Regions from separate parts of the Homo sapiens genome. Here regions 1, 2 and 3 are each reported to be linked to region 4. The links are microRNA targets in miRTarBase. Many come from high-throughput screens and were not tested one by one. Region 4 holds a microRNA gene; each other region holds the end of a gene's coding sequence.

Region 1 (7,854 bases), not on the chromosome of region 4:
TCGATAAGCTGACAGGAAAAAAAATGAGTTTTCTCCCCTTTTCGTTGATGTTTTGTAATATGTTTTCTAGCTACTAGGTGGACTACATACTATAGTCACATGTGGGCCATGAGAAATACTTCGAATTACATTCAGGCACCATGTTGTAAAGGTCCTGGACTTTGTTTTTACTGATTTTGTTAACCGTAAAGATCGCTAGTAATTAAAAATTGGCAGTTAGTCCATCTATCTTCAATTTATGCATGAATAATTATGCAGATTTCCCAGGGTTGCTGGACAGCCAAAAATAGATACAGGGGAAGCCCTCCAACTTGATAGCAGCAGTTATATATTTGTACTCTGAGCTCTAAGGAGCAGCAAAGGCCCCACTGTGTCGTCTTCCTGTGGTTTTTATGGCACAGAAAGCCAAAAATGATTTCAGTTCTTCACTGAGGGCTGCCAAACTATTGGCCCACTTTATGAATAGTTGCATATGCTTTGTTAAAAAATTTTTATACTTGCAGTCTCAGCCAAAATCCAAAGTGATTTTCTAAAATATAATTAATACTCCATGAAATTCTTTGCACTAATAAAGCACAAAAAGATAGATATACAAACTTGGTCACCTTAATAGAAATGCCTGAATGACATTAAACTTTTAATAAGTAAGTCTTCAGTTGATCTGGTGCCATCACTGTTTAAGTGCCTGCCCGTGAATCCGCTTCATTTTGTAGAGAAGCTATATCTCTTGAAATAAATATTAAAACAAAATACTCTCCCTAGTCTATAGCTTTAATTTTTATTGGGATATCTTTAATTTTTATTGGTATTTTTAACAATTATTATGGGAATCTGTAAAGTTGATACATGGCAAGGTAGTAATAGCCTAGTAAAGCATTTCAGTTCCAAAGACAATACTTGAATAGTGGAAGGATTTACCAATGTGCAATAATTAAAATTAGCCATGTAAAACTATGGGACATAGACGAAAAGGCAAGCCATAAAGTAAGTCTCAGATTATCTTACTCTAAATCTGAATTTTGCTACGAAGTACCCAGGGACATTGTGCTGTTCTTTTTCTCCGTGCTGGGAGATTCGTGCTAGGTCGTGCTGCATTATTAGTAAAAGGCTATTGTGATAGTTAACCCTCATTTAGGAGGAGCTCTAAGATGGATTCACAAAATACCCAAATGCATACAATACATGTGGGTCACCTTATAATTAGGGTCTAGAGTAATTTGGAATGTAAAGCAATTTTTATTCTGAGGTTTCCTAATTCAAATGTTAATAGTGCACCAAAAGGTCAATTCAAGAGTTTATTATTATTATTTTTCAACCCAAGTAAAAGCAGAGAGAAAATAGCCACCTCCACCATAGCCTCAGAAGCAAGCCAACAGCCTGAAACAGCTTTGAAATGAAAAGTTGGTGTGGCGGTGATGGTGGCAGTGATAATGGTGACGATGGTTGGGTGCTGGTGATGGTAGTGGTAGTTGTGAAGGTGGTGATGGTGGTTTGATTGATAGTAAAAAAAATGTTCGTTAATACAAGTAGAGAGTAAGTAATCAATCAATCACTCATAGCCAAGGTGGAAAAGATGTATCCCATCATGGAATATTCCTGTTCTGATAGAAATCTTGTGCTTATCTATGGAATTCTTTTGATATATATTTACATTGGGAACCTGAATGTAGCTTGACATTTTTCCATGTAAACACCAGTAGCCTGATCCAACATTAAGCTGATACTAACAAACAACGTGTAATGGCTTCATTAATAAGGCTTTGCTTCTTCCTGGAAACTGGTGAAAAATCAAACCTTGTTGTGTACACCCTCGATGCAGCTTCTGTGTTGTCTTCACCCAGAAATGGGGAATGATTTCCCAAATGGCAAAGAAACAGAGTGATGCTATCTATCTGCACCTTTTGTAAAGTCTGTCTTTCTTTCTCTTTGTTTTCCAGGACACAATGTAGGAAGTCTTTTCCACATGGCAGATGATTTGGGCAGAGCGATGGAGTCCTTAGTATCAGTCATGACAGATGAAGAAGGAGCAGAATAAATGTTTTACAACTCCTGATTCCCGCATGGTTTTTATAATATTCATACAACAAAGAGGATTAGACAGTAAGAGTTTACAAGAAATAAATCTATATTTTTGTGAAGGGTAGTGGTATTATACTGTAGATTTCAGTAGTTTCTAAGTCTGTTATTGTTTTGTTAACAATGGCAGGTTTTACACGTCTATGCAATTGTACAAAAAAGTTATAAGAAAACTACATGTAAAATCTTGATAGCTAAATAACTTGCCATTTCTTTATATGGAACGCATTTTGGGTTGTTTAAAAATTTATAACAGTTATAAAGAAAGATTGTAAACTAAAGTGTGCTTTATAAAAAAAAGTTGTTTATAAAAACCCCTAAAAACAAAACAAACACACACACACACACATACACACACACACACAAAACTTTGAGGCAGCGCATTGTTTTGCATCCTTTTGGCGTGATATCCATATGAAATTCATGGCTTTTTCTTTTTTTGCATATTAAAGATAAGACTTCCTCTACCACCACACCAAATGACTACTACACACTGCTCATTTGAGAACTGTCAGCTGAGTGGGGCAGGCTTGAGTTTTCATTTCATATATCTATATGTCTATAAGTATATAAATACTATAGTTATATAGATAAAGAGATACGAATTTCTATAGACTGACTTTTTCCATTTTTTAAATGTTCATGTCACATCCTAATAGAAAGAAATTACTTCTAGTCAGTCATCCAGGCTTACCTGCTTGGTCTAGAATGGATTTTTCCCGGAGCCGGAAGCCAGGAGGAAACTACACCACACTAAAACATTGTCTACAGCTCCAGATGTTTCTCATTTTAAACAACTTTCCACTGACAACGAAAGTAAAGTAAAGTATTGGATTTTTTTAAAGGGAACATGTGAATGAATACACAGGACTTATTATATCAGAGTGAGTAATCGGTTGGTTGGTTGATTGATTGATTGATTGATACATTCAGCTTCCTGCTGCTAGCAATGCCACGATTTAGATTTAATGATGCTTCAGTGGAAATCAATCAGAAGGTATTCTGACCTTGTGAACATCAGAAGGTATTTTTTAACTCCCAAGCAGTAGCAGGACGATGATAGGGCTGGAGGGCTATGGATTCCCAGCCCATCCCTGTGAAGGAGTAGGCCACTCTTTAAGTGAAGGATTGGATGATTGTTCATAATACATAAAGTTCTCTGTAATTACAACTAAATTATTATGCCCTCTTCTCACAGTCAAAAGGAACTGGGTGGTTTGGTTTTTGTTGCTTTTTTAGATTTATTGTCCCATGTGGGATGAGTTTTTAAATGCCACAAGACATAATTTAAAATAAATAAACTTTGGGAAAAGGTGTAAAACAGTAGCCCCATCACATTTGTGATACTGACAGGTATCAACCCAGAAGCCCATGAACTGTGTTTCCATCCTTTGCATTTCTCTGCGAGTAGTTCCACACAGGTTTGTAAGTAAGTAAGAAAGAAGGCAAATTGATTCAAATGTTACAAAAAAACCCTTCTTGGTGGATTAGACAGGTTAAATATATAAACAAACAAACAAAAATTGCTCAAAAAAGAGGAGAAAAGCTCAAGAGGAAAAGCTAAGGACTGGTAGGAAAAAGCTTTACTCTTTCATGCCATTTTATTTCTTTTTGATTTTTAAATCATTCATTCAATAGATACCACCGTGTGACCTATAATTTTGCAAATCTGTTACCTCTGACATCAAGTGTAATTAGCTTTTGGAGAGTGGGCTGACATCAAGTGTAATTAGCTTTTGGAGAGTGGGTTTTGTCCATTATTAATAATTAATTAATTAACATCAAACACGGCTTCTCATGCTATTTCTACCTCACTTTGGTTTTGGGGTGTTCCTGATAATTGTGCACACCTGAGTTCACAGCTTCACCACTTGTCCATTGCGTTATTTTCTTTTTCCTTTATAATTCTTTCTTTTTCCTTCATAATTTTCAAAAGAAAACCCAAAGCTCTAAGGTAACAAATTACCAAATTACATGAAGATTTGGTTTTTGTCTTGCATTTTTTTCCTTTATGTGACGCTGGACCTTTTCTTTACCCAAGGATTTTTAAAACTCAGATTTAAAACAAGGGGTTACTTTACATCCTACTAAGAAGTTTAAGTAAGTAAGTTTCATTCTAAAATCAGAGGTAAATAGAGTGCATAAATAATTTTGTTTTAATCTTTTTGTTTTTCTTTTAGACACATTAGCTCTGGAGTGAGTCTGTCATAATATTTGAACAAAAATTGAGAGCTTTATTGCTGCATTTTAAGCATAATTAATTTGGACATTATTTCGTGTTGTGTTCTTTATAACCACCAAGTATTAAACTGTAAATCATAATGTAACTGAAGCATAAACATCACATGGCATGTTTTGTCATTGTTTTCAGGTACTGAGTTCTTACTTGAGTATCATAATATATTGTGTTTTAACACCAACACTGTAACATTTACGAATTATTTTTTTAAACTTCAGTTTTACTGCATTTTCACAACATATCAGACTTCACCAAATATATGCCTTACTATTGTATTATAGTACTGCTTTACTGTGTATCTCAATAAAGCACGCAGTTATGTTACAAAAAAGTATTGACTGGACTGCAGTACTTTGTTTTTATTTTAATTTAGTTGTTGTTACTTACTTACTTACTTTTTAAATAGGTAATACATGCATATGAGTAAAAAACTATAATCCAGAAAGACAGTGAAAACACTCCTAACTACCCCTTCCCCCATATCAATCAATCATCCTCATTGCTCTATGAGTAGACATTATTAATTTCTTATTTAGTCTTCCAGAGGGTCTTTCTTTATTAATTATTATATAAGCAGTTAAAATAATATATATGTTCCTATTTATTTTTTTCCTATTATTATTTCATAGGATATAGCATTCTCTGCACCCAGTTATGCACCTTACTTGTTTGTTTGTTTAAATTTAAATATGGACTCAAGAAATCTTTTCATTTAAATATATAAAATGCTTTCTCATTCTTTTTTATAGCTGTATAATATTTCATTATATGTTCATAGGATATTTTATTTAAGCAGTTCCCTTTGGTGGGATATGTAGTCTGTTGTCAGTCTTTCTTTTGCTATAACAAACAATATTGCACATTTCTCATTACATCATTTCATTTGTGCATAAACAAACAAATCTGTGGGATACTTCCTAGAAGTGAGATTGCTGGATCAAAGGGGGTAAGCATTTGTAGACTGGGAGATGATACATTTTGTGCAGTGATTGATTGATTGATAGTCATAGTGTTTGTTTGTTTGTTGTGTTTTTTGTTTTAATAATGACAAGTATATTAATTAAGTCAGTTTGCAGTTCATACTTTGCTTCTCAAGAGAATTTCATATCACTTCTATTCTTAATGTCACCATCTAAGAGGATGCATGAGTGAGTAGTAAGAAAGAGACACCTAAAATGATGTCTCACAACTGGTTCTGGGGAAGAAGAATCCCTTACCATAGTCAACCACCACCATGGGGAGAACCTCTCCTTTGCCCCTGCCCTGCTCTGTTTCTTGCCCTAGCTGCAAAGGAAGCTGAGAAAGTGGGTAGCAATGTCAGCACTTCTTAGGGAGAGGCTATCTATCTTTACCTATTCCCAAGGTTCATGGATGGGGTGGGCGGGGTTCCCCAACAGTGTTCAGATACTGGTGAGCCAAAGGAATAACATAAGTCCACCAGGTGCAGCCTATCCTAGTGATTTTGGAAATAATAGGAGATGAGATGATCCATCTCATTAGAAATGATGTTTGTTAGTAGATGTGGCATCTCTGCTGTGAATCAATCACTTGCTAATTTTTTGAAAGTAGGGTGATGATGCTGACCTAAGTGACTACCACATTGAAACACTTCCCTTGACATCCACACATACCAAGAAAAATTTTCATCCTATTTAAATAAACAAATCATTTATCCTTCCCACCATTACCCGAACCTACCTTTGTTTGAAACACCCAGACTGGCTGTTTTGGTGACACTTAAGGAGGTAACTGAGGAATCTTCAATACTTCACCACGTCTAAGACAACTGTGTGTGGATGACTCTGAGGAGGGCATTTGGTTTTCCATTCCATACTTGGCACACACTAGAAGAGACAGAATTAATTCAGTTAAAAATTAAAATGAATCGAGCTGGCACAGATTATGCACCGGCAAGCAAAATGTGTGTTTGTTTGGGAGAAAGCACCAAGACTAATGGATGTGTTCTGTAGAGCTGCGATGGGATTTCCCTGAATTTGTAATGCTCTAATGGTGGAATGAATACAAAGGCAGGCACTGGCGCACTTGCAAAGACTTTGCCTTCAAATTAAGTGTAGGAAGGACACAAATCAAATTCTTTCCCACAGTAGCAAAGCCATTGGAGTAGGAACTATAAATATGTTCTTCAATGCCCCTTGCACGTCAGTGTACTGTGATCTCATGGACTTAGCTGACAACACAAGAGTGGCAGCATGCCCAACATTCCATAATAAACAATATTGTGTGAATGTGTAAAGTTTGGGGATGTTTGTTTGAGAGTAGCTTTTGTGTACAGAAAAGGTTACCTACAGTAACTTGAGGTTTAAATGTTATATGTACATATGTGTGTATGTACATGTGTGTATTTTATATACATTCAGGATTTTAGCTCTTCCATAACTTTATTTTGAAATAATTCAAACAAGAAAAACTGAAACAAAAGAAAAATTGCAAGAACAGTACAAAGAAAGAACCCACATATACCCTTTACCCAGGTTAATGAATTGTTTACATTTTGCTTCATTTACTTTATCGTTCTCTCAATGAATAGATGATAGTTTTTCCTGAACCATTTTAAGAATAAGTTGTAGACATCATGCCTCCTTACATTTAAATACATCATGTACATTTCCTAATATCTAGGACAGTCTCTTGTATAACCATAGTACAATTATCAAAATAAAAAAATTATATATAGCTATCATCTACTCCACAGTCCATATTCAACCAAATATTGTCAATTGTGCCAATGATGTCTTTCATCATTATATATATTTCCCTAGTCTGGACTCTAATTCATGATTTCATGACATTTAGTTGTCATATCTCTTTAATCACCTTTGATCCGGAACAGTGTCTCTGCCTTTCTCTGTCTTCAAAGACCTTCACATTTTTAAGAGTACAAGACAGTTACTTTGTAGGATGTGCATCAATTTGGGTTTGTCTGATGTGTTCTCATGGTTTAGATTCAGGGTATGCATTTTTGTCAGGAATACTACACAAACAATGATGTGTCCTCAGCATGTGATACCAGGAGGCATATTCCCATTCTTGGTGCTGTTAACACTGATCATTTGGTAAAGGTGGTGTCTGCCAGGTTTCTCCACTTGGTATACATTTTAAAACCTAAGTTTTCATAAATCTTTAGGTTCAACTTAGAAATTTCATTTTTAGATATATAAATGTAGACAATTTGTATGAAGTAAGAACAGTCACTTTTAGTGAGCAGACTTAGCCACGTTGAGTAGTCTGAATTTTTTCGTTCTAAGCTGTATTTATACACTTAATGTGCTTTATTTTCAAGCCTATCTAATATCTCACAGGGAAGACCAACGCCAACCAACAGCACCTCCACCATACCTAACTCACATATATCGAGACAAACATATAAATATAGTGAATCTCAAGTCCTCTGAAACATTCCAATAGCATATACTGTATGAGCTGAGTCCAACTTTTTTTATTCATTTTGAAATAATAACATGTGTAAAATTACACATTTTACATTGGAACCTAAGACATCTCTCCAATTTGCTAATATG
Region 2 (7,854 bases), not on the chromosome of region 4:
GCCTCAGCCTCCCGAGTAGCTGGGATTACAGGCATGCGCCACCATGCCTGGCTAATTTTGTATTTTTAGTAGAGATGGGGTTCCATCATGTTGGCCAGGCTGGTCTTGAACTCCCGACCTCAGGTGATCCACCTGCTTTGGCCTCCCAAACTGCTGGGATTAGAGGCATGAGCCACCGCGCCCAGCGCCCTCAATGTTCTTATAGTGAAGTAGAGGAGAGTGGTATAATGATGTAGGAATAGAGATATATATTAGGTACAGTGGTTTCACAAAGCAGGAAATGGACAGTGCAAAAGGGAAGGCATCGCATATTAGAGGTGCTACGTTAGGGCACATAGGGTAGTAAGAGTGCAACAGGAAAAAATGGAGGGGGAAGCATTCTAGGCAGAGGGTTGTGCCAAAGTTCAAAGGTATAAAACAGGGCCAAGTGCGGTGGCTCACGCCTGTAATCCAGCACTTTGGGAGGCCAAGGCAGGGCAGATCACTTGAGCCCAGGAGTTCCAGACCAGCCTGGCCAACATGGTGAAACCCCATCTCTACTAAAAATACAAAAAAAAAAAAAAAAAAAATTAGCCATGTGTGGCGTCATATGCCTGTAGTCCCAGCTACTGGGGAGGCTGAGGCGGGAGAATCACTTGAACCCAGGAGGCGGAGGTTGCAGTGAGCCAAGATTGCGCCACTGCACTCCAGCCTGGGTGACAAAGCAAGACTCCATCTCAAAAAAAAAAAAAGGGATTAAAACAGTATGGCTTACTGGCAAAATGGAGAATAGTGGGAAATGAAGCTGGAGAGGTAGGCAAAGATGTCATGGAGGGCCTTATGGGTTTGACCTTTATAGAAATAATAATAGCCACAACTTATTGAGCATTCACTTACCTTTAACTCATTGAATTCTCACAACAACCCTATGCAGTAGGTGTCATTATTTCCATATTATATATGAGGTATTGCCCTTTCTTATCTCCGTTTATCCTTTTAGCCTCATTTCTTACCCTTATCCCCTCATTTCCTATTCTCTGGCCACACCACAGTATTTCATGGTCCCCTTTCTCCCATCTCACTGTCTTTGCCCTTGCTGTTCTAACAGCCTAGAATCCCTTCCATCACTGCCTGTAGAAACTATTCACCCTTTAAGACCCAGTTTCAGTTCTCCTATTTAAAGCCTCACCACAGCCAGGTATATAGACAGTTGGTCCCATCCTCCTGCATAGGAAGGTGCTCTCTCTCTCATATCCCTATTTCCAAGAGCTTCTCAAGATCACAGCCACAATAGTAGAGAAATAAATTTTTGTGAACACAGAATTAGAAGCAGTTGGGTTTGGCTGGGCGTGGTGGCTCATACCTGTAATCCCAGCACTTTGGGAGGCTGAGGCTGGCAGATCACCTGAGGTTAGGAGTTCGAGACCAGCCTGGCCAACACGGTGAAACCCCATCTCTACTAAAAATACAAAAGTTAGCCAGGCGTGGTGGCGGGCGCCTGTAATCCCAGCTACTCAGGAGGCTGAGGCAGGAGAATCGCATGAACCTGGGAGATGGAGGTTGCAGTAAGCCGAGATTGTGCCACTGCACTCCAGCCTGGGTGACAAGAGCGAAACTCGGTCTCCAAAAAAAAAAAGCAGTTGGGTTTGAAATGTCATCTTGCTGCCAGTTCTCAGAAAACTTTTTTCCTTTTCTTTTGTAGCTAAACGAGTGAATGAGGTGATCGTGGGGAATGACCAGCTCATGGAGATCTGAGTTCTGAGCAAGTCAGACTCCTTCCTTTTGGCCTCCAAAGCCACAGATGTTGGCCGGCCCACCTGTTTAACTCTGTATTTATTTCCCAATAAAGAAGGGCTTCCAAAGGCATGCTGGAGACTTGTGGAGCAGTCCAAAGCTCCATGTCAGGTGGGCTCCAGGTGTACACAGTGTATGTTCATGTGTCATGTGGTAAAGATCATCTGGAGCAAGTGTGTGGGACAGGACAGATACAGTGGCCTAACTCTTGTGTGCCAAGATGTATCGGTGGGGCAGCAGCTGTCCAATGTAAAGCTCCTAGGAAGGCTACTTTCTGACTGGCTGACCCAACCCAGTCCTGAAAGTATCCCTCACCTAAAAGGACCTGGGAGTACTTCAGTCCCTTATCCTAATCAGCCTTTCTAGACCCATAGGCCTAGCTGCTGGCAGTGCCACGCCTGAGCATCAGCCCAGGACTCTGCTCCCATACCTACCATACAGATTCCCAGCCCCTTCCCCCACCTCACCCACAGCCCCACCCTCCATGCTCACCATTCACTCCCTCTCCTCCCAGCCTCTAGCCATTTTCCCTAGTTCAACTAATATCCCTTGGAGACTGAACAGAAGCAGGGGCAGCCCCTGCCTAGCCAACAAGCCTATTCCCACAGGTTCTAGTGGAGATAAGAACATGAAGAGCCATGGTCTGAGCCAAGCCAGACCCCGCTGCACCTCACCTCACTGAGGTTTGCCCAACCTGGGAAGGAAGAGCCAGGAACCTGTATCATGGCTTGAAATTCCTTCTGACTCTCCTCCAGCTGCACTCCTTTATATCCTAATTCTGCAGACTCTCCTGCTTCAGATAATTGAGGAATGAAATTTCCATACTCACAGCCCTTCTAGAGGCCTATCCACCTTCCCTCCACCACCCCTGCTCCCAAACACACATTCACTCTGCTCTCTCCCTGCATTGCTTTTACAGCCTGCAGGTGTTTGGTGGAAGATAAAAGTGGTTCCTGGGGTGAGATTTCACCTCCTAGAATTATCAAAGTAAAGGCTTCTCTTGATGTCTTCACTGTGGGTGGCAGTAATTAGAAAGAATTATTTGAAATACTGGTTTCTGCATTGCTTCAAAAACCTCAAGGCTCTCAAGTTTACTTGAGTAATCTTGCCTATCTTAGTCATAGAACTTGTGAGAGACTCCGTGAGTATTTCTACCCTGGGGGATCTCCACCTCTGTCAGCCTTCTTGAGAGCCCTGGTGCTCCCACTGGTCAGAACAAGGCTCCTGAAAGTTTGCCCTAATCAGGCAGGAGCTGAAATGGCCCGGCAGAAGTGGTTGAAACCAATAGGGCTGAGAGGGATGTGGGGATAAAGAGCTGTGGTGGTGCCCAACATGGTCCCCTTTGGAACTGAAATTAAATTGGTGGGGCCTAGATGGTGCTGGAGACAGAGTCCTGGCCTGGGTGGAAGAAAATCTGTCCTCTGTAATGTTGTTTGGTTTGGGTCAAATCACTCTCTCCTCTCTGACCTTGAGTGTTTCCATCTGCAAAATGAGAAAGTTCGACTGTTTGAATGTTAAAGGCCCTTCTGTTTCTCAGGTTTTGTCCTCTTTCCCAGAGCTTTCTTCCCCTTAGGGTCTCCCAAGGAGCCAGAAGATTGCTCCTTGAGCAGAGAAAAGGGTTGGGAGGGAAAGTGCGGTGGAGGAGTAAAGGGCATTGATTAAACTGTCTCAGAGCCCTCCTATGTACCCTTTCCTGTCCTTCCCCATGGAGCCCTTAGAACCCCTGACAGTGAGACAGAGGAAAAACCTCTCCTGTGCCTTCCCTTTGCACAAGTCCATGGAACGGCCTCTGCATCAAGGAAAGGAAGGAGCTGGAGAAAACAAAAGGTAAAAGCTTTCCCAGAGGAAGGTGTTGTTGAGTTTGAGTCCCAGCTGGGAGCAGCCCCCAGCTCAGGACACTGCTGCTATTGTCTGACAGTTCCAGGACTGGCTGGGTGCCCAAGATGCTTTGATTTTTCTTCTCTTTGCCCTGTTTGTCTGCCAGAAGGCAGGGACAGTTTTTGTTTTCTTTTGGTAGCAGCTACAGAGGGGCTGAGTATGTCTGAAACATAGTGAGCAACTGAATGTCCACTGGCCGGCCACCTCTCCATGGACAGAAATCAGAAAAGCAAGGCAGGCAGAAGAGTTAATAGGGTCTGCCCTGCCTCTCCCAGTGATGCTCAATGAGGGAAGTGGAGGAAGAGGAGAAAGGGGACCTCGAATGCCGAATCAGGGAGGACCCTGGGGATGTGCTGAGGAACAGGGTTCCGGGAGCTTGCCGGGTCAGACAAAACTTGACAGCTGCTACTCCAGGAATCCATCCCCCAGTTACAATTCATCCTTGCCTGCTGGCAAGAGTTCCTTGAGCCGAGAAGACTGCCACTACCCAGGATGATTGCATCAGGGGCCTTCTGCCATGGATAAATGGGGAGCTGCTGCATTGGTTCTTAGCCTCTCTCCTTTCCCCATACTTGAAGTGAGGGCCCATAAGCTCCTGTGAGCCTATAAGACTGCCAAGATTGCCCTCCAAGCTGTTCCCCAAGGCCAAAGGTCGAACTTCTTCCCAGTTCTTCACTACTTTACTATTACCATCCCACTTCCATACTCAGTGGAGAGAGGGAAATTGTGTTTAGCTGTAGCCCCAACAGGAATCTAGGGCCTGCATGGCCTAGTTGAGAAGTTGTTTCTATTTCCAGAGAATTGCAGGGGATACACTTTCTTTATCCACAGCTATCCCTACTCCTAAGGAGGTACATAAACCAGGCCTTTGTATGCAGCTTTCTAAATAGTTAAATGTGTCTGAGGAAGGGGGAGGCCCATGGAAAGGACCACCCAGACAGAAAGTCTAGAAAGCTCTGCTCTAATGAAGCTGACCCAGAGGGAGAGAGACTGGGCAGGAGAACACATTCTACTGGAAGCCAGTATGACCTGTCCTTGGCCTGAGCCATCTGCCACTACCCAGGATGATTGCATCGGGGCCTTTCTGCCATGGATAAATAGAGAGAGGCTGCATTTGTTCTTAGCCTGTCTCCTTCCCCCACACTTAAAGTGAAGGACCATTCCCTAATCTCTGGCTGCAGCCCTGGCACCAAATACTTGATAGGTACGCCAGGCGCGGTGGCTCACGCCTGTAATCCCTGCACTTTGGGAGGCCAAGGTGGGTGGATCACCTGAGGTCAGGAGTTCAAGACCAGCCTGGCCACCATGATGAAACCCCATCCCTACTAAAAATACAAAAAGTTAGCCCGACGTGGTGGCGGGCGCCTGTAATCCCAGCTATTCAGGAGGCTGAGGCAGGAGAATCGCTTGAACCCAGGAGGTGAAGGTTATAGTTAGCCAAGATGGCACCACTGCACTCCAGCCTGAGCAACAAGAGCAAAACTCCATCTCAAACAAACAAATACTTGATAGGTGCTATTGGCCTCAACCTGCCCACAGGGAAGGAGCATACATACCCAGGCTTGGCCCCTAAATATAACAGGTGGTGATGGGGCTGCCCAGGACCCCCACTTCCCTCCTCCACATCTCAGGGTCATTGACTCTGCTTGGCCTAGATAACAGAAGCAGCCAAAAGCTGGCGAGTGAGAAGCCTAGAGGAATGCCAGAGAAAGCAAGCCTGCCTTGCCTCCACCATGAATTAACTCCCACATGAACCCACCCCTGAAGCCAGACTGGTCACTTTACCCAGCACTGTGTGTATGTGAGTGTGGGCTGCCTCACTTTTCCTGGCACTGTTCCTCAGCCATATGTATTATCTCATTTAATCCTTATGTTAATGTCAGAGATTATGTGACTTCCCTGAGATCTCACAACCAGCAAATGAAAGATCCAGACCATGAGCCATTCCTTTTCCTTTTAGATTCTGTCATCCTCCCACCTCTCCCATCCAGTTCCTTTCACTTCTGGAAACATCCCTGAGTACCCCCAACTCAGTGGTTTCCCCTGTGGTCTCTGTGCTCCCCCTCAGGCTATGAACTTCTAAAAAGCAGGTACCCTGCAACACCAGAACCCAGCAAAGGAATGGACACATAAGAGATCCCAAGGCTGGGCGCGGTGGCTCATGCCTGTAATCCCAGCACTTTGGGAGGCCGAGGCGGGTGGATTGCCTGAGCTCAGAGTTCAAGACCAGCCTGGGCAAAACGGTGAAACTCTGTCTCTACTAAAATACAAAAAAATTAGCCAGGCGTGGTGTCACGCGCCTGTGGTCCCAGCTACTCGGGAGGCTGAGATGGGAGGATCACTTGAGCCTGGGCAGTAGAGGCTGCAGTGCACCAAGATCATGCCACTGCACTGCAGCCTGGGTGACAGAATGAGACCCTGTCTCATTGAAAAAATTTAAAAAAAGGAGATCCCAAGACGTTTGTTTCATGAGTCAGTAATGAGATTTAATTAGATTGCTTTTATCCTGTTATTTGGAGAATATCTCTAGTTTAGGCCCAAAACACGTACCCAGGACCAGTGGAAATGACAGTGAAACAAGCTGTTCTATCATAAAGGAGGCTGCTTGCAGAAAGAGAAGAGAAGCCTCTTTATCCCTTCCTATTCCTGGGGTCTATGGCTTTGGCTCTGGCTGAGCTTAGCTGGGCTCAGGAAACCATTTTGTTTGGGAGAAGACAGGTCATTTTGTAGCTTGGAGCAGCCAGACAGCACTAGGCCCTAGGTTGGAAAGGCTGGAAACTGTAGACCCATTTCTTCCATCCTAGTCTTTGAACTATAAGGCAAGAGGTTTCCTTAATAGACAGACTTGGCCTTGGAAGCATCCATAGAAATGGTGGACTTTGTCACAATTGTTAGCAGTGATGGGCCTATGATGAAAGCAGAGTCCCAAGGCCCAAGTGGTTACAAATCTATTTATCCATGGACCTTATGTCTTGCAGAGTCTGGTAAAAAGGAAGGAGATTAAGACTTACTTAAAGCATAGCATCGGGAGTTGTACTCCTGATGACAACCAGTGCTGAGTCCAGGCCACTCCCTGTCTTCAGCTATTGCCCCAAGAGCAAACTAGGGGCCCATACAGACTTAAGTTAGAGGCTGTTTCTATTTCAGAGACTTGCTAGGGGTACAGTTCTTTTTAACCTTAAATTTTTTATGTTATCATTATTATTGTTTTTTGAGGCAGGGTCTCACTTTGTCGCCCAGGCTGGAGTGCAATGGCACAATCACAGCTCGCTGCAGCCTCTATCAACTCTCCTGCCTCAGCCTCCCAAGTAGCTGGGACTACAGGTGTGCGCCACCACACCCAGCTAATTTTTTATTTTTTGTAGAGATGGGGTCTCACTATGTTGCCAGGGCTTGAACTCCTGGCCTCAAGCAATCCTCCCGCCTCAGCTTCCCAAAGGGCTGGGATTACAAGCATGAGCTACCATGCCACTTTATGCTCAGCAGGACACACTCTATAACAGGGAGAAGAAAGTGCTATTCAGGTAGGCTGCTTTTCATGTGCAGTTACTGTTTGGCCAACAGCATCATACATATATTAGTTCCTCCATAGGCATTTTTCTGGGTGAATGGACAAATGGAAATGGCAAACCTGTTAGGTGTTCACCCCTTCAACCTAAATGTTCCTCTTCCCCAGGACTGAGGCTCTAGAGATGATGTTAATTTGCACAAGCTTTCAAAAAATCAGTTGAGCAGTGTGTATCAAGAGCCATAAAAATGTTCATACTCTTTGACCCAAACAACCCACTTCTGGGAATCTGTCCTAAGGATATTCTCCAAATGATTGATTACAAAAACTACATAGTAACATGAAATATTTATGATGGAATGATTTTTTTTAAGTCTGGAAGAACTGACCAAGAAATTTGCCAGAGATAATAGTAGTTGTGTTAGAAAAATTAGCTTATTGTAGATTCATTTTCTCTTTCTCAAACTTTACATATTGGAATATTGATTTTACCCTACTCTGCCACTTGAGGTTTATCAATCAGGAACCCAATAGAAACAGCACACTCAGATAGGATAGTTGAAAGTTTAATAGAGGGACTATTGCCTCTATTCTTCCCAATTTCCAATCCTTTACACCCTGAATTCTGCAACTCTTAGTGACTCACTCAACAATTATTAAGCACCTATTTATTGTCTGGTGAAGAAGGCAGACTT
Region 3 (7,733 bases), not on the chromosome of region 4:
CTGAGTATGATGGCATGCGCCTGTAGTCCCAGCTACTTGGGAGGCTGAGGCAGGAGAATCACTTGAACCTGGGAGGCGGAGGTTGCACTGAGCCGAGATCTTGTCACTGCATTCCAGCCTGGGCAACAGGCAAGACTCTGTCTCAAAAAAAAAAAAAAAAAAAAGAAAGAAAGAAAGAAAAAGAAAAAAGAAAAGAAAAGAAATCCCAAGCACAAAGCCCTGGAAGAAAACTGACCATGAGGCCACACCCTGTGGGTGGAGCAGGTTGAAGCAAACCTCCTGCCCCTATTTCAGATCCCTGCCCAGCAGGGCACCAATAACGATGCAGTCTCCATTCTTAAACATCTTTCTAGGTGACATGGGCTGGACAAGCATGTGGTGAGCCGGGTTCTCATTGCCTCGGGCACTCACTCATGCTGTTAGCTCCATGAAGTCAATACCTTTACCGTCTCCTTTACTGAGGAGGGAACTGAGGTGCACAGGGAAGCAGAATAAAGTGCCCATGAGCCCTGGGTACTAAGGAGCCAGGCTCAGAGCTGCCTTCATGAGCACCAGAGATGCACACTCTTCCCGTGGCCAGAGCGGCACCCCAGCGGGAGGCCCCAGTCCCTTCATTCTACATTGCCGGGTTTTTCAGTTGCAGAAAGCTCTCCCCACCCTTGCTGGACCAGAGTGGCCTGAACTTGGCCAACCTGGTAGAACTCAGGCTGACATAGAACAGCAGGACACTCCTGGTCCCGGGGATTAGAAGTTGTTCTAAGGAAAAGATGCCCAGGTCAAAAACGTTTCCAGAGCACCTGGCTCCGTGCAGCCACCCCTGCGTCTGCTGCAGGGCCTCCTGTGGCGCCCTTCCTGGGCGTGCACTGCGACCCTCAAATAGGAGCTGCATGAGGGAGGCCCAGGGTTCTGTTTCCAAATACGTTTCTTCATCCATCTTTTTCCTGAACCGAAGTTTCTCACATTCACACTTGAGGAAATGCTGACAGAAAGGGAGTTCTCTGGGTAGTTTAGATATCTGGTGGACATGTGAAGTATAACTAGAAAAATGCATTCCTTCTATACTTCTCATGTGCCTGGACTCCCAGAATGTTTGACTAAAAACAGAGTCATGCACAATGGAAATCTCTCTTTTTCTGAATGAGCTAGCAAAGAAATACAAACCCAAAATATGTCTGGCTGTGTCTCTCAGCCCAATCGAATGGTCACGAGCAGCTGGCCCAGCAGAGCCCTGAATGCTCTTTTATGTTTGCCTTTTGACTCCCAAGGACTTGTCTGAGTGACCCTGCGATTATTTTCCCTCCTTAGGGGAAAAGTATGAATTGCACGCAGCGACTGACACCACTCCCAGCGTGGTGGTCCATGTATGTGAGAGTGATCAAGAGAAGGAGGAAGAAGAGGAAATGGAAAGAATGAGGAGACCTAAGCCAAAAATTATCCAGACCAGGAGGCCGGAGTACACGCCGATCCACCTCAGCTGAACTGGCACGCGACGAGGACGCATTCCAAATCATACTCACGGGAGGAATCTTTTACTGTGGAGGTGGCTGGTCACGACTTCTTCGGAGGTGGCAGCCGAGATCGGGGTGGCAGAAATCCCAGTTCATGTTGCTCAGAAGAGAATCAAGGCCGTGTCCCCTTGTTCTAATGCTGCACACCAGTTACTGTTCATGGCACCCGGGAATGACTTGGGCCAATCACTGAGTTTGTGGTGATCGCACAAGGACATTTGGGACTGTCTTGAGAAAACAGATAATGATAGTGTTTTGTACTTGTTCTTTTCTGGTAGGTTCTGTCTGTGCCAAGGGCAGGTTGATCAGTGAGCTCAGGAGAGAGCTTCCTGTTTCTAAGTGGCCTGCAGGGGCCACTCTCTACTGGTAGGAAGAGGTACCACAGGAAGCCGCCTAGTGCAGAGAGGTTGTGAAAACAGCAGCAATGCAATGTGGAAATTGTAGCGTTTCCTTTCTTCCCTCATGTTCTCATGTTTGTGCATGTATATTACTGATTTACAAGACTAACCTTTGTTCGTATATAAAGTTACACCGTTGTTGTTTTACATCTTTTGGGAAGCCAGGAAAGCGTTTGGAAAACGTATCACCTTTCCCAGATTCTCGGATTCTCGACTCTTTGCAACAGCACTTGCTTGCGGAACTCTTCCTGGAATGCATTCACTCAGCATCCCCAACCGTGCAACGTGTAACTTGTGCTTTTGCAAAAGAAGTTGATCTGAAATTCCTCTGTAGAATTTAGCTTATACAATTCAGAGAATAGCAGTTTCACTGCCAACTTTTAGTGGGTGAGAAATTTTAGTTTAGGTGTTTGGGATCGGACCTCAGTTTCTGTTGTTTCTTTTATGTGGTGGTTTCTATACATGAATCATAGCCAAAAACTTTTTTGGAAACTGTTGGTTGAGATAGTTGGTTCTTTTACCCCACGAAGACATCAAGATACACTTGTAAATAAAGCTGATAGCATATATTCATACCTGTTGTACACTTGGGTGAAAAGTATGGCAGTGGGAGACTAAGATGTATTAACCTACCTGTGAATCATATGTTGTAGGAAAAGCTGTTCCCATGTCTAACAGGACTTGAATTCAAAGCATGTCAAGTGGATAGTAGATCTGTGGCGATATGAGAGGGATGCAGTGCCTTTCCCCATTCATTCCTGATGGAATTGTTATACTAGGTTAACATTTGTAATTTTTTTCTAGTTGTAATGTGTATGTCTGGTAAATAGGTATTATATTTTGGCCTTACAATACCGTAACAATGTTTGTCATTTTGAAATACTTAATGCCAAGTAACAATGCATGCTTTGGAAATTTGGAAGATGGTTTTATTCTTTGAGAAGCAAATATGTTTGCATTAAATGCTTTGATTGTTCATATCAAGAAATTGATTGAACGTTCTCAAACCCTGTTTACGGTACTTGGTAAGAGGGAGCCGGTTTGGGAGAGACCATTGCATCGCTGTCCAAGTGTTTCTTGTTAAGTGCTTTTAAACTGGAGAGGCTAACCTCAAAATATTTTTTTTAACTGCATTCTATAATAAATGGGCACAGTATGCTCCTTACAGAAAAGTTGTCATTTTATTTCTAGAATAAATCTGTGAACCTTCTAAATTCTGCAGTTTAAAAGGCTTTTAAACCTTTTTAAACATTTTAAATTCAGAAGGAGACATCCTTTGTCAATTTGAGCTTAGAAACTCCTAATTCTGTGCTGTGGTTCATGGAGAGTCCACCACACTAAGAATGCATCACTTGCAAAAGAAGAAAATGGATAAAACTGAAATCAGAACTTCGAGTATTTCGTTTGTACAGGTAGATGCTACTGTGATGAAACCCCTGTTCACCAGCACCTCCACAAAACAGCAATGGTTTTGGTCATTTGAAGAGCTTTCTTTTCTATTAGAAAAGATGTCCATGGAAGATACTAAGTTATCTTCAGAAGATGCATCTGTAAGCCTTCTGTTTAATCTCTGGCAGCTTTTCCCCTGAAAGTCTCATTTCAAATGGTGGTGACCTTCCTGGGAAGCCCACAAAGGCCTAAGTAACCCAGTGTTTATTTGCTGAAATCTAGGAAATGACATTAATCCTGATCAACATTAGCATTAGGCGTTTATCTATGAAAATTCACATGCTACTTTTTTTTCTCTGTCTTGAGAACCATGATCCTGTCATTTCCAAGAGTATTTGCACATTTTCAAGCCATATATGTTCAAGGTTTAATCGTGCTGGAAAATCCACACTTCCACCAAGTTGGTCAAATCTGATTATTGGACAGATTCAGGCATTGACCCCCACTAAGGACAGGCAGGAAATATTTCCAAATAGAGACTCTCAACAGGTCCCCTTAGATAAAGGAGGGAAAAAGTCAGTGGTCCCACTGCCAGTGAAGCCAATAGACCTTAGAATAGAAAATACAAGTCAAGGAAAAGGCTCACTCAGGACAGCCTATTTCTTCTGAGTTGTTCTGTGGAAGCCTCAGCTGAAATTGTAAAACCAATAATGCACAAAGTTTCTGGTTCCCAGGCTGATGGGCCTGAAAGTAATTGAATCATGAATGTGCCCAGGACCCACGCATTGCTTTGTAGGAGAGGGGTTCAGTCAAATGTGAAACAACCGACATTCAACAGGCAGCATCATGCAGGATGCACACTTTGCCATTGATTGAAAGTGTTTCTTCAATAGGCTTTGATAGAATATGTTACTAATCTGATGGGAAACAGCTTAGGGCCATGCAAAAAAAGAAAATCAGCCCCTGGAAATGAGTGGCTAAATCAAAGCGAAGGGCAGTAGAAGGAGAGGAGCGGAGCAATTCATGGAGCTATTCAGACACAAGCTATAAACATTGATTTGAAGTCAGCAGGCATTTGGGATTTTACATTTCCAGAATATTGTGTGTGAATTACTGCCCACAGAAGATTTGGGTTTTCAGAGAGCTTTAATTTTCTGTGAAATGTGCAGAACTCACTACAAAATAAATCGATTTTCTCATATGTTAAGTTGCAGGAGATTAAAAGCACTCTATGGACGTGTTATGATCAAAAGTGAACGCGCAGCCAAAGTCTGTCACACTTCACAGTGCCCGTAGAACCCGCAGAAAGTTTGCCTGGGTATCATAGGTACATATCCAGTAACATTCACCCAAAGGTCAGTGACTCAGGTGGAAGCTGCATACATAATTACCCTAAAAATTATTCAGGAAGAAGGTCCACTATGAATAACAAGTACTCTTCCCTCCTGCCTCTCTGGCCTCCTGATTCTAAAGTAGAACAGGGAGTAGAACGTGGAGGAAACTTTTCAAGTATATCACCACTCTTGGCAATCCTTAATTCACATCTGAAATTCTCACTCCGTGACTCACCGAAAGTTACATGGCAATCAGGTAGATGGATTTGCTTCTCACATACCTCATTTTCTTCCACAATCCTTCCCTGCTGTTCGTGAAAGGTCATTTCAATCATAGCTATGTTTATGAAAGACAGAAGGAAATTATTCACAAGTGATTGAGGTGTGCTGCCTGTGCCCACCGTTTCTCCTTCTTTCAGGATTCTGATGAGGGACTCGGTGACCCTTCTACACAGCGAACGAGTGCCAAGTAGATGCAGTGGCCACTGCTCAAATCCCTCTTTCAAGAGTGTCAGGGCCCTCCTGGCTGACATTTGTACTCTGGCAGCGCAGACTTTTCAGTGTTTTTAACTTACCATGTTGTCTTTTCTCTGCCTAGAAAATGATCTCATTGTCCCAGCCCAGCCCTGCTAACCCCACAATGAGGTCCACGAGGTCCTGCTCACCCCTGTTCAAATTCCAGCAGCTACCTCTGTGCCCAGCCACAGAACATGTTTCTAGGGGCTGCTTTTCTTTTCTTGAGTGGCCCTAAGCTGTTTCTTACCAGATTAGTAATATATTCTATCAAAACCTACTGAAGAAACACTTTCAATCAGTGGCAAAGCGTGCATTCTGCACAGTTCTGCCTGTTGAATGTCGGTCATTTCACATTTTACTGAACCCCTCTCTTACAAAACAACGTGTGGGTCCTGGGCACATTCATGATGCAGTGACTTTCAAACCCATCAGCCTGGGAACCCAGAAACTTCTTGCATTATTGGTCACAATAAGCGCTACTGAAATGATTGACTCTTTAATATTTCTCCTGCAGGTGTCTATTAGGAATGTCTCTTCCCCCTAAGAATCGTTGCCAGCTACTCCCGCTGGGTCTCCCATCATGCCCCCTTCTTTTCCATTGTATGGCATATTTTCTTTTTTATCGTAATTGTTAAATTGTTTGTCTTCCCTGTTGAAACATAATTTGGGTGGAAGTGGGATTCCTGGTAGCCAATGGCTCATAGTAGACGTTCAACACGCAAGTGGATTGGATAGATGGAAGGATAGATGGGTAGATGGAAAGTTGGATGGATGGATGGATGGATGGATGGATGGATGGATGGATGGATGGATAGGGATTTTGGAGGAAGAGGAGTGAGCAGTCACTGAAAAGAATAGAAAAATAATGAGGCTTGCTCCCTCTCCCTAGTCAGAAGAGCCAGTAAGCAGCTTAGAGCTTTAATCCCACAAATTGTCAGGCAGCTGGCGCAAGAACAGGGAAAAAGAGAGAGAGAGAGAGAGAGAGACCCTGTCTGTGGTAGGTTATGGTCATCAGTGAAAAAGAACAAAAACCTTTGTTTTAAAACTCTCCTCAAAACAGATGATTGGCTAGAGGGTGCGGCACAAAGGAACTTGTCAGGGTGATGGAGACATTCTGTATCTGGATTGAGCAATGCAAGAACCTGGGTAAAGACACAGTCATGGTAACAGCTGTATACATCTGTTGAAAACTCATCAAACTTATCATATTTAGAAAGGGTACATTTTGCTTCATGTAAAGTATGCCTCAATAAAGTGTACTTGATTTTAAAATCAGGATAAAGGAAAAAAACATTGATCTTGGATAATGGGCAGGGGTTGGGGAGAAGGTCTTAATTATCATCATATCCTTTTAAAAACGTTTTTCAAGTGTGTGATGCTCTGATGACATTCTTAAGACACAGCAAGGCAAAGCAGTATCCCAAATGAGAGAGTGAGCATTCCAATAAATATTTTCTGTAAGACACTGATATGTCTATGACTATTTGCTAAATTTAAAAATCAACTTGGACCATATTTACTCCCTTAAAGTCTAATAGACGACTAATTTCTTCTATGTTCAGAACAAATATGTTGCTACTTTAAGAACAGCATACATAGGTGTGGTCGGCCCTCTGTGTCTAAGGCTTCTGCATCTGTGGATTCAACCAACAATGGACTGAAAATATTCCAAAAATAAAATAAAATTAATGAAACAACAACAAAAATAAAACAAATAAAAAAATGCCAGGTAACAACTACTTACAAAGCATTTACATAGTATTAGGTGTTAGAAGTAATCAAGAGATGATTTAAATCACCATCTATGATTGGCTGATATGCATAGGTTATATGCAAATACTATGCCACTATATATAAAGGACTTGAACATTCGCAAATTTTGGTATCTGCAGGGGATTCTGGAACCAAACCCCATGGATACCAAGAGACAACTATATATAAAATACTGAAAGAGGCATGGAGAGTGATTTTCAGGCCTCTACCTAAAGCCCTGAATATTAGAAATTACTGAATTTCTTCTCAGGAAGGAAATTACGCCATAAACCAGTGTTGCCACACACCCAGAGAACAAGATGACCCGACGCCCCAGCCTGGTCATGCCACATGAGCTGAGCAGTGGGTAGGCCACTGAGCCAGTGATAGAAATCACAAATTACAAAACGTCAGAGTACTTTCTGGAAATAAGCCTTCCTCTCCAGGGAACAACGCATTTGACACTTGACTGGGATACACTACCGGATCCTCCGAGGGTGATGGTTCTCAAGAAGGCAGAAGCAATGGTGACCAATAGACCTCCTTAAAGGCTGAGCCGCTGGGCACCTTCCTACTCCTCTCGACCGTGCTAGGATGACTGCAGCAGAGTCCCCGAGTCCTTTGATGCAAGGGTCTAGGTGAGTTCGAAGGAGAGCCATACTAGGCCAGGCAGAAAGGCCCATGGTGATGGCTGTCCACCCTGGTCAGGGGAATTCTAGGTTCAGGCCATGCGGCAAGGTCACCTTGAGGGACATGCTTTGCTCTAAGCTCAGCTTAAGTGTGTCTGAACCCCCCTCACTTCTTCCAACTGCAGAAGCACATGGAGAAGGGGGAGA
Region 4 (7,854 bases):
CCTCTGTCTCCACATTCATGAAATGGGCTGAGGATGGCGGCCCTCTGGGGACTGTCAGGAAGCAGATCAGGCCCTGGATGTCACCAATGCAGCACCAGAGGGGCCGACACACCAGCATTTACAGCAACTGTCTGGGTCCTGCTCCCAGCCCTGGGGAAGCTGCTCCCAATCAGAGAAACCAAGCTACCCATATAGACTCACAGCAGCTCTCACACTGGGCAGCCCTGAAGGCTGTGGGAGCCTTGGAAGGGTGAGGGTGGTATAGGGCACTGGCTGGCATAAGTGTGGATGCTGAACTTGGGCCACCAGGCAGGACGCATGCAGGGAGGCCAACACAAGGCACCTGGCAGCACCACCTGCCCTCAGGCTCAGCAACAGCTGGGGCCGGGGTAGGAGCTGAGTCCCTTGAGCAAGCCAGACCTGAAAGCCTTCCCCTTCCTGGTCCACCTCAGCTCCCCAGTTGTCCGATATCTGAGATGTGCGACCTGGCTGGTGCCACCTCCCTTCTTGTTCTAGAAAGAGGCTGAACTCAGAATGGGACAGTGACCAGCCATGTTCACCCAGCTGGCACAGGGATGCCCCCAGGCCTCATCAGACCTGACCCCTCCGACCCTGCCTGTTTCAGGAGGCAACGTCAGAGGAGCCCATTTCACTAAATGCCACTGTGTGGGTATGAGTCTGTGCCAGGGGCTTAGCCCTAGGGCCTGACCTCCCTCCTTGGCATCTGAGGCCCTTCACTGGGGCTCCAGCCTCCCCCCAGGCTCTGGGGAGGCTCAGCTCAGGGCTCAAACATGGCAGGCCTGTCCTTGGTGGGCCCAGATGCCAACTTTCAGGCTCAGCCACTCCGCCCGCCTCCCATGTGTGGACCTTCACTGTGCCACCTCTTCTGCCTGGGGCCACCTGAACTCCCGGCCTTCAGATAACCCAGCTCCGGAGTCTTCCCAGGCTCAGGGTGGCCTCCCTTCCTGCTGGTGGCAGTGCCTGGAGACAGATGTGGCTCTCAACTCAGCGCTGTTGGGGACGGGGGTGCTCCCTCTGGCTCACCCCCAACAGTTTTGCCAGATGCCGTTGGGGGCAGTGATGCTGACAGCTCCTTGGTGGTGAGCGGGGCGTAGGTGGGCGGGAGGCTGCCAGGCATGTCGCTGGCTCGGGACGATGGCCGGCGGTCCCGGCACGTGGCTGTGATGGGTACAGAGGCCCCCACACCTCCCCCGCAAACACACACACGCCAGGAGAGCGGGAAGCGCCCTGGGGTCCCTCCCCAGGATTGTCCTCAAACCCGAGGCTTCCACAGCCCAGAAGGGGTCACCCTATTCACAGCTTTGGCCTCGGAGGTGGGGGGGGGGTGCAGGCGGGGCTGGCCTCGGAGGTGGGGGCTGCTGCCACACGGTGTCGCTGTCGGGAAATGCACAGTCCGAAGGCGGGGGTGGCTGGCGGGCAGTGGCCCAGGCTGCCCAGGCGGGGCGGATGGTGGGGGAAGCAGGGCAGGGTGAGGGATCGCAGGCATTGAAGGAGGCACTGACCTCCCGGGGCAGGGCTCTCTATGGCTTCCCTGGCAGGGCATGTGGCCCTCCTGGGCCCTTCCTCCACAATTCACAACAAAATCACAAACCGCACCCATGACTGGGGTGGTAAGACACCCAGAACCCAGGCTGGGTTCGCGCTATATTCACCCCATCATCTACACCAGTCTATAATATACTCATTATACATTATATATTCAGTATTGGAGGGGTCATTTTCCCTTCCCGTTTTAAAAGAAATGGAAACAAGACTCTTTCTGGGCTCTCACCTCTGTGCCCCGTGCTGATGTGTGACCCAAGAAAGGCCCCCCGGCCGAGATGCTCCGTGTCTGCCACCTTGCTGGCCTTGTCCTAGCCCTGGCCCTGGATGGCGGCCCTGTCCCTCGGTGCTCAGGCTGCCGGGTTCAAGTGGTGGGCTGGCTTTGCATCCCTCCTAGGAAGGCCAAGGTCAGCGGTGGCCTACTTGAACCTTAGGGCCCAGGGGTCTCTCAAAGGGCCCACTCTGGACAGCCCAGGAGCCCCCTCGAGTCTCTCTGAGCCCTCATCTCCTCGGAGGACAGGGCCACGCCGACCTTTCTTCTGTAGGGTAAGGCTGTGCTCTGGCGGTACTGCCTGAGCTGGGAGGGGTCCGTGGCACGTGGCTCCCGCACAGCCCGGGAAGCTGGGGCCATCCTGAAGGTCCTTGGTCCCCGGCTTTCCTCCCTGGACTTTGTTCTCAAGGCAACTCATCCACATCCCTGGGCACTCTGATCTGGTATCAGCTTAAATCCTCATGGGCGCCCTGGGAGGTGGAAGCTACGGTGACCCCACTGCGAGATGGGAAACAGGTTTGGTGAGCAGAGTGACCAATCTAGGCCTGTCACCCCCAGAACTTCCACAGGCTGCCCTCATCCTATATTTTGGGCGAGTTTTGGCAACCCCATCTCTAGGGACGGCCAGTCAGCAGGGAAGGTTTTGGTCAGCTGGAGGGTAGGGAGGGAAGTGGGGTGAGCCAGGCATCACCTCCTCCAGGAAGCTGCCTCTGACTGCAGGGCTGGGTCCAGGGATCCTTAGGGTTCCCCAGCCCTTGGGCTGCTCCACTGTGATGTTGACCCCAACACATGGCCACTGTGTGTCCCTGGCAGCTCCCCGACCAGGCCTTGAGCTCTGCAGGGCCAAACCCTGCTCCAACTACACAGTATGGGGGCTGGGAGGAGAGGCTGGCTCCTCGGGACGTTCACAGTCTGTTCAGACACAGACAGGGGCTGCGGTGGCCAGAGATGGGTCTGAGCCGTGGACTGAGGGGTGGGGGAGCGGTGGTGAGCAGGAGAGTCCTGGTGGAGGTGAGCACAGGCATGAGGGAGGGGTGCTGGGAGGCAGTGCAGGCAAGGGTGTCAGCAGAGATCTGCTCCGGAGACAGAGGGGGCTGCTCTGAGACTCTGAGGCCTGGCAGTGGGAGTGGGGAGGGATGGAAATGGTGTTTAGAGGACAGAAGTGGCCAGATGTGGCTGCTGACTAATTATGGGGTGAAGAAGGGGATTTGGACAGTGCCCATGTGTCACCCACTCTGGCCCCAGAGGATGATGGGAGAAGGGACCATGGGGCACGTCACTCATCTCCAGCTGCAAACTCCTACGCAGCTGTCAAGACCCAGCTCAGATGGTCCCTGCTTTAGGAAGCCCTCCCTGCCCTTGGGCCCCTCCTCCACGTCCCTTTGCCCTTGGCCCACAGGGTGGCAGCAGCTCCGGGAGGGTAGGCAGGCCTGGGCTCTGAGGTGTTTGCCGTGCAGGACTGGCACAGATGGGTGTCAGGGTAGGGGTGCCGGTCTGCCCAGACGTGGCCATGCAGGGCTGGGGTTGCCTGCAGAACCAAGGCAGGCCAGGAGGGCACAGGGGGGAATCTGGGCCAAGATTGTGGCCTGGGTCAACAGGAGGGGCGAGGATGGGCACTTGGGTGGGGGAGGTGTGGGCCCAGCTGTATCAGCCCCTCCCCACCAGGGGCTCTCGGTGCTGGGCCAGGCATGAACAAGCCCACCCCACATGCCCAGGGCGGGATCACTGGGCCCAGCCTACGGCAGCTGCTAGACGAGGGCCTGAGGCCTCCCAGGAGAATGGGTGCACTTTTGGGATGGCAGTCTGTCAGAGGAATTACGGGTGCCCTGGAAACTGTCCTGAGGGAGGACGGAAGGACAGGCACGTCCAGACTTTGGTCAAGGCACTTAAGGCACGGAGGTGGCCTCAGGAGCCAGGACTTGGCAGTGCTCTGAGCTGCTGACCTGGGGCCTTGGTGGCTGCCCCGTGGGGACCTCTCCACCGGGCCTGGGTCCCGGTGTTCAGCCCGCCTGGCTCAAAGGCAGCACGAGAGGGCAGAGAACGGGCTGGGCCTGGGATCCTGAGCCCAGGGTACAGCACGGAGCCAACTGAGGACTCTGGAGGCACCGGGAGGCGTGAGCAGACAAGTCTCATGACCTGGAACAGCTCGTGGCCAGGGGCCTCCACACTGTCCCGCAGCAGACGCGCCCCAGAGCCCAGTCCCTGGGCTTCCAGAATGAAAGGGGCCAGTTCCAAGTTCATGGTCAGAACAGCTTTATTGAATCTAGCTCCCAGATGCCCACCCAGCTTCGGCTCAGGCCCCCTGCAGGTCACTGAGGTGGGGGGCAGCCCTCCCGTGGGGTCGTGTCACTGAGGTAGGGGGCGGCCCTCCCATGGGGTCGTGTCACTGGGCTCCTCAGGGAAGGCAGTAGGTTGTATAGTTATCTTCCGAGGGGCAACATCACTGCCCTGAAACCACACAACCTACTACCTCACCCCGCCAGGCCCGGCCTTGCACTGCGGGAGGGCCCGCCGCCCCCCGCCCAGCACCAGCCCCTGCCTGGCGGTCCTCAGTCACCAGAGCAGGAGGGCTGGGCAGGCGCAGGGCAGGAGGGACAGGGGAGATGGCACCCCAGGAAGGGGCAGCTGCTGCTGGCTGGTCTTGGGAAGTCCCTGGCTCTCTGGGCCTCAGTTTCCCCAGGTACAGAGGAGCCACTGTCTGCCTTCAGATTGTGCCATGTGGGACCCAGTGTATGCAGAGCTGTTCCTCTCACTTCCTGCTCAGGAAAGGTGCCTTGGCCTCCCTTCCTCCACAGGCAGAGGCCCTGCCACTGAGCTGGCCAGGCTGGGGCACGTGCTGGGAACCTGGGGTGATGGGCAACGCCAATACTCGCAGCCCTGTGACCTCCAAACGTCTCGGCCACCCCTGGCCCCACGGTGCCTTCTCCTGGTGCTCAGTGGAGGGTACGGCTCAGGGCCACCCATGAGCCTGGGCCTGATGGCGGGGGGAGTGTTGGGGAGTGTTGGGAGACAGAGGTCAGACAAACAGCTGCGTGGATCGCCTCTCTCAGTGCGGCTGGGGCAGAGGGTGGGGTCGGCTCAGCTCTCCTCTGCCCTCGATGCTCCACACTGCATCTCCTTCCATCCTCATTTGCCTCCATTTTACAGAGGAGGAAACTGAGACCCAGAGAGATCAGGGGCCTGTCCAAGGTCACACAGCAAGTGGCACCTAGGCCTGTCAGACTTCTCAGTGTAGGCGGCCCCTGCCCCCGACTGCTGCCAAGGCTGCCCCCAAACCTGGCCCTGCCCGCTCCCAGCCAGGGTTCCAGACGCTCTGTCCACCGCAGATATTACAGCCACTTCAGGAAAGACAGTAGATTGTATAGTTATCCCATAGCAGGGCAGAGCCCCAAACTATACAACCTACTACCTCACCCCAAAGGGCAGTCGGTCTTGGTGCCGATGGGACTCCGTGGCTTCCAGAGGCACCTCCTGGGGACGCGGGAGGAAAGAGGGCTGAGGAGAACAGGGGCTCGAGGCTCGGCAGGCCACACGCACCAAGGGCACAGGGATTCTGGCGGGCAGGCGCGGTGGGCGCAGGGGGCTGGGACGCCGAAACCCTGGGAGTGGGGACATTGTGGCCAGCACCAGCAGGGACGGGAGCCTGCAGGAAACCACCAACCAGAGAGGGACGAGGAAGAGAGAAAGGAGGAGGGAGGGAAAGCCCTGGCGGCATTTTGCGACGCTGTCACAGGCAGCCGGCTCCCTCTCATCTGGACAGGAGTGGCCATAATGTCCCCAAGGAACTCTGCACTGGAGACCCTAGGAGGAGGGCTGTCATCTGTCGAAGGCCAGCAAGACACAGGCATGCGAGTGCCCACCCTGCTCGGCCCCCTCCCTCCCCGCACAGCGCCACCAGAAGCAGCACTCGTGGCCCCCAGGCTGGCTGAGTAGCGGCTTCACGGGCGTGCCGTCTCCTCCCACTGGGCAGGCAGGCATCCCTCCCCAGGGGCCCTGGTTCTGGCCCTGCTGTGCAGGCTGGCCTGAGCTGACCGCACTGCAGGAGGTGGCGGGAAGGTTCTTTCCTTCCTTGAGGGAAGTGGCCTCTAGGGGAGAGCAGCTGGGGGGGTAGTCACAGACCCTCAGGTCCACCCAGGGTCCAGTGCCTGTCCCTGCGGGTGCTGGCACACTCAGTGCCCTAGCTTGGGACGCACAGGGCTGGGACAGAGTGTAGCATGAGGATGACACTGAGAGGGCCTCGGGGCTCCCCTAGCAGGGGAACGTGGCGAGAGACGGGCCTCCCTAAGCCCCGCCTATCCTGGGCCTGGTGCAGGGTCAGCCTCAACAAATGCTAATTGTGGCTACCACCTTCCTGGGGAAAAGCTGAGGGGGCAGATACGACTGTCAACCCCTCTTAAACAGGTGAGGAGACCGAGGCCCAGAGAGGCAACGTGACCTGGATGTCACACAGCCAAGGGGGCAGCAGAGTGAGGTCCAAATGTCCTGCTCCCTGCCAAGCTTTTTTTTTTTTTTTTTTTTTTTTTTTTGAGATGGAGTCTCACTCTGTCCCCCAGGCTGGAGTGCAGTGGCGCGATCTCGGCTCACTGCAAGCTCCGCCTCCTGGGTTCACGCCATTCTCCTGCCTCAGCCTCCCGAGTAGCTGGGACTACAGGCGCCCGCCACTACGCCCGGCTGATTTTTTGTATTTTTAGTAGACAGGGGGTTTCACCGTGTTAGCCAGGATGGTGTTGATCTCCTGACCTCGTGATCCGCCCGCCTCAGCCTCCCAAAGTGCTGGGATTACAGGCATGAGCCACTGCGCCCGGCCTGCTTCCTGCCAAGTTAAACGGCATGCTAGCTCTCAGCTCCCCATGCCCAAGTGGACTTGAAAGGTCTACCCCAGCCCTCCTTCCACAGCCCATCCTGAGCAGGCTGCCTACTCCAGGCAGGCCCCAGGCTGGGCTGGACCATTTAATCCTCACAGCCCTGGTAAGGCTGAGATCACGGATCCCACTTCATAGTGGAGAAACTGAGGCTCAGGGGGTGCTGAATCTCTAGCTCTAGGTGTCTTTGCTCTCAGAAGTTGGTCGGGGAGGGGGTCTGCTTGCTCTCTGGGCACGTGTCCTACTCCCTCCCGAGGGGCACTGGAGCAAATCCCAGGTCCTTAGCCAGCAAGGAGACCGCTGAGGCTCACACCTGGTGCCGCCCACCCAGAACTGGAGACTGAGATGCTGACTCACCCAGGAGTGGGGACCAGGAGGGCCCCGATGCAGCCCGACCCTCCTCTGTCCCAGCATCATCTCGCCTGGGGTCGCGAAGACCCCGTGTTCCCTCAAGGCCTCAGAACAAAAGCGGTATGAGAGGGTCTGGGGGTCCTGCTCCCCTGCTCCAATTCTGGGTCCCCTGGCTGGTGGGCAGGACCAAGATGTCCCTAAGGACTGTCCGGGCAGAGCCAGCCAGGGTGGGGTGAGGGCTGAAGGGACAGTGGCTGAGGGTCTCCTTGGACCCTCCCAGCTGTGGTGAGTGGCCGGAGGGGGAAGATCAAGGCCATCCCAGCTCCTCTGAGCTGAGGCTGACTCAGGCTGTCGCACACCTCATGATCAGCTCCCAGTCAGGTGGTCCACCCTGAGTGTCCCTGCGTCTGCCCCCATCTGCACCCCCGGGAGGTGCCTTGGGGGAGGCTGTGGGGTGGGTTGCACCCTAAGCACGCACTCTGGGCTCCTGACTTAATCTCTGAGACCCCCACCCCCTCAGGCTGGACTGGCCACCTGGGCTGGCTGGGTCCCCTCACACCTACTGGGTTCTGACTCATGGTCCCAGCAGGCTAAAAAGGGGGTGGGGCAGGACAGCCCAGTGGGCGGAGCTGTGAGAATCCAGGCCGGCCTCTGGGCTATGCTCTGGGCAGGTCTCATGCCCTCGTGAGCCGTGGTCTCCCCACTGAGGCAAGGGGTCAGCTGCCAGGGCCCCCGTCATCAGCCATCGGAGCTGGAGTGCAGGTGGGGACCACCATACTGATTCCAATGGCCCCAGCCTGGCCCCCA

What was found. The annotated mature microRNA hsa-let-7b-5p reads UGAGGUAGUAGGUUGUGUGGUU and lies in region 4 at 4,287-4,308, opposite strand. An mRNA with a match to its seed (bases 2 to 7 or 8) in the 3' UTR can be bound and repressed. Matches are read on the target gene's strand: a 7mer-m8 pairs with bases 2 to 8, a 7mer-A1 pairs with bases 2 to 7 and ends in A, and an 8mer does both.
Region 1: miRTarBase lists DMD as a target of hsa-let-7b-5p. Seed matches in the 3' UTR shown: 8mer at 3,883-3,890.
Region 2: the mRNA of EIF2B3 is a reported target of hsa-let-7b-5p. The part of its 3' UTR that is shown has no 7-base or 8-base seed match.
Region 3: the mRNA of RCAN1 is a reported target of hsa-let-7b-5p. The part of its 3' UTR that is shown has no 7-base or 8-base seed match.

Annotation. Positions count from the first base shown.
Region 1 is chrX:31,116,014-31,123,867 of GRCh38, reverse strand. It overlaps DMD (dystrophin), which reads left to right. Exons shown (of 79, transcript NM_004006.3): 79 at 1,938-4,646. The coding sequence ends at 1,949. Among named protein-coding and RNA genes, the nearest start is that of FTHL17, 48 kb to the right of the region's middle.
Region 2 is chr1:44,844,831-44,852,684 of GRCh38, reverse strand. It overlaps EIF2B3 (eukaryotic translation initiation factor 2B subunit gamma), which reads left to right. Exons shown (of 12, transcript NM_020365.5): 12 at 1,682-2,163. The coding sequence ends at 1,734. Among named protein-coding and RNA genes, the nearest start is that of PTCH2, 5.5 kb to the right of the region's middle.
Region 3 is chr21:34,511,829-34,519,561 of GRCh38, reverse strand. RCAN1 (regulator of calcineurin 1) reads left to right here. Exons shown (of 4, transcript NM_004414.7): 4 at 1,306-3,120. The coding sequence ends at 1,478. KCNE1 (potassium voltage-gated channel subfamily E regulatory subunit 1) reads left to right here and starts at 7,352. Exons shown (of 4, transcript NM_000219.6): 1 at 7,352-7,535.
Region 4 is chr22:46,110,145-46,117,998 of GRCh38, reverse strand. MIRLET7B (microRNA let-7b) reads right to left here and starts at 4,313; the gene lies at 4,231-4,313. It overlaps LOC124905135 (collagen alpha-1(III) chain-like), which reads right to left. Exons shown (of 2, transcript XM_047441696.1): 2 at 4,071-7,854. It overlaps MIRLET7BHG (MIRLET7B host gene), which reads right to left. Exons shown (of 5, transcript NR_110479.1): 5 at 4,071-7,854. It overlaps MIRLET7A3 (microRNA let-7a-3), which reads right to left and starts at 5,250; the gene lies at 5,177-5,250. It also overlaps MIR4763. RefSeq lists an enhancer at 6,689-7,222.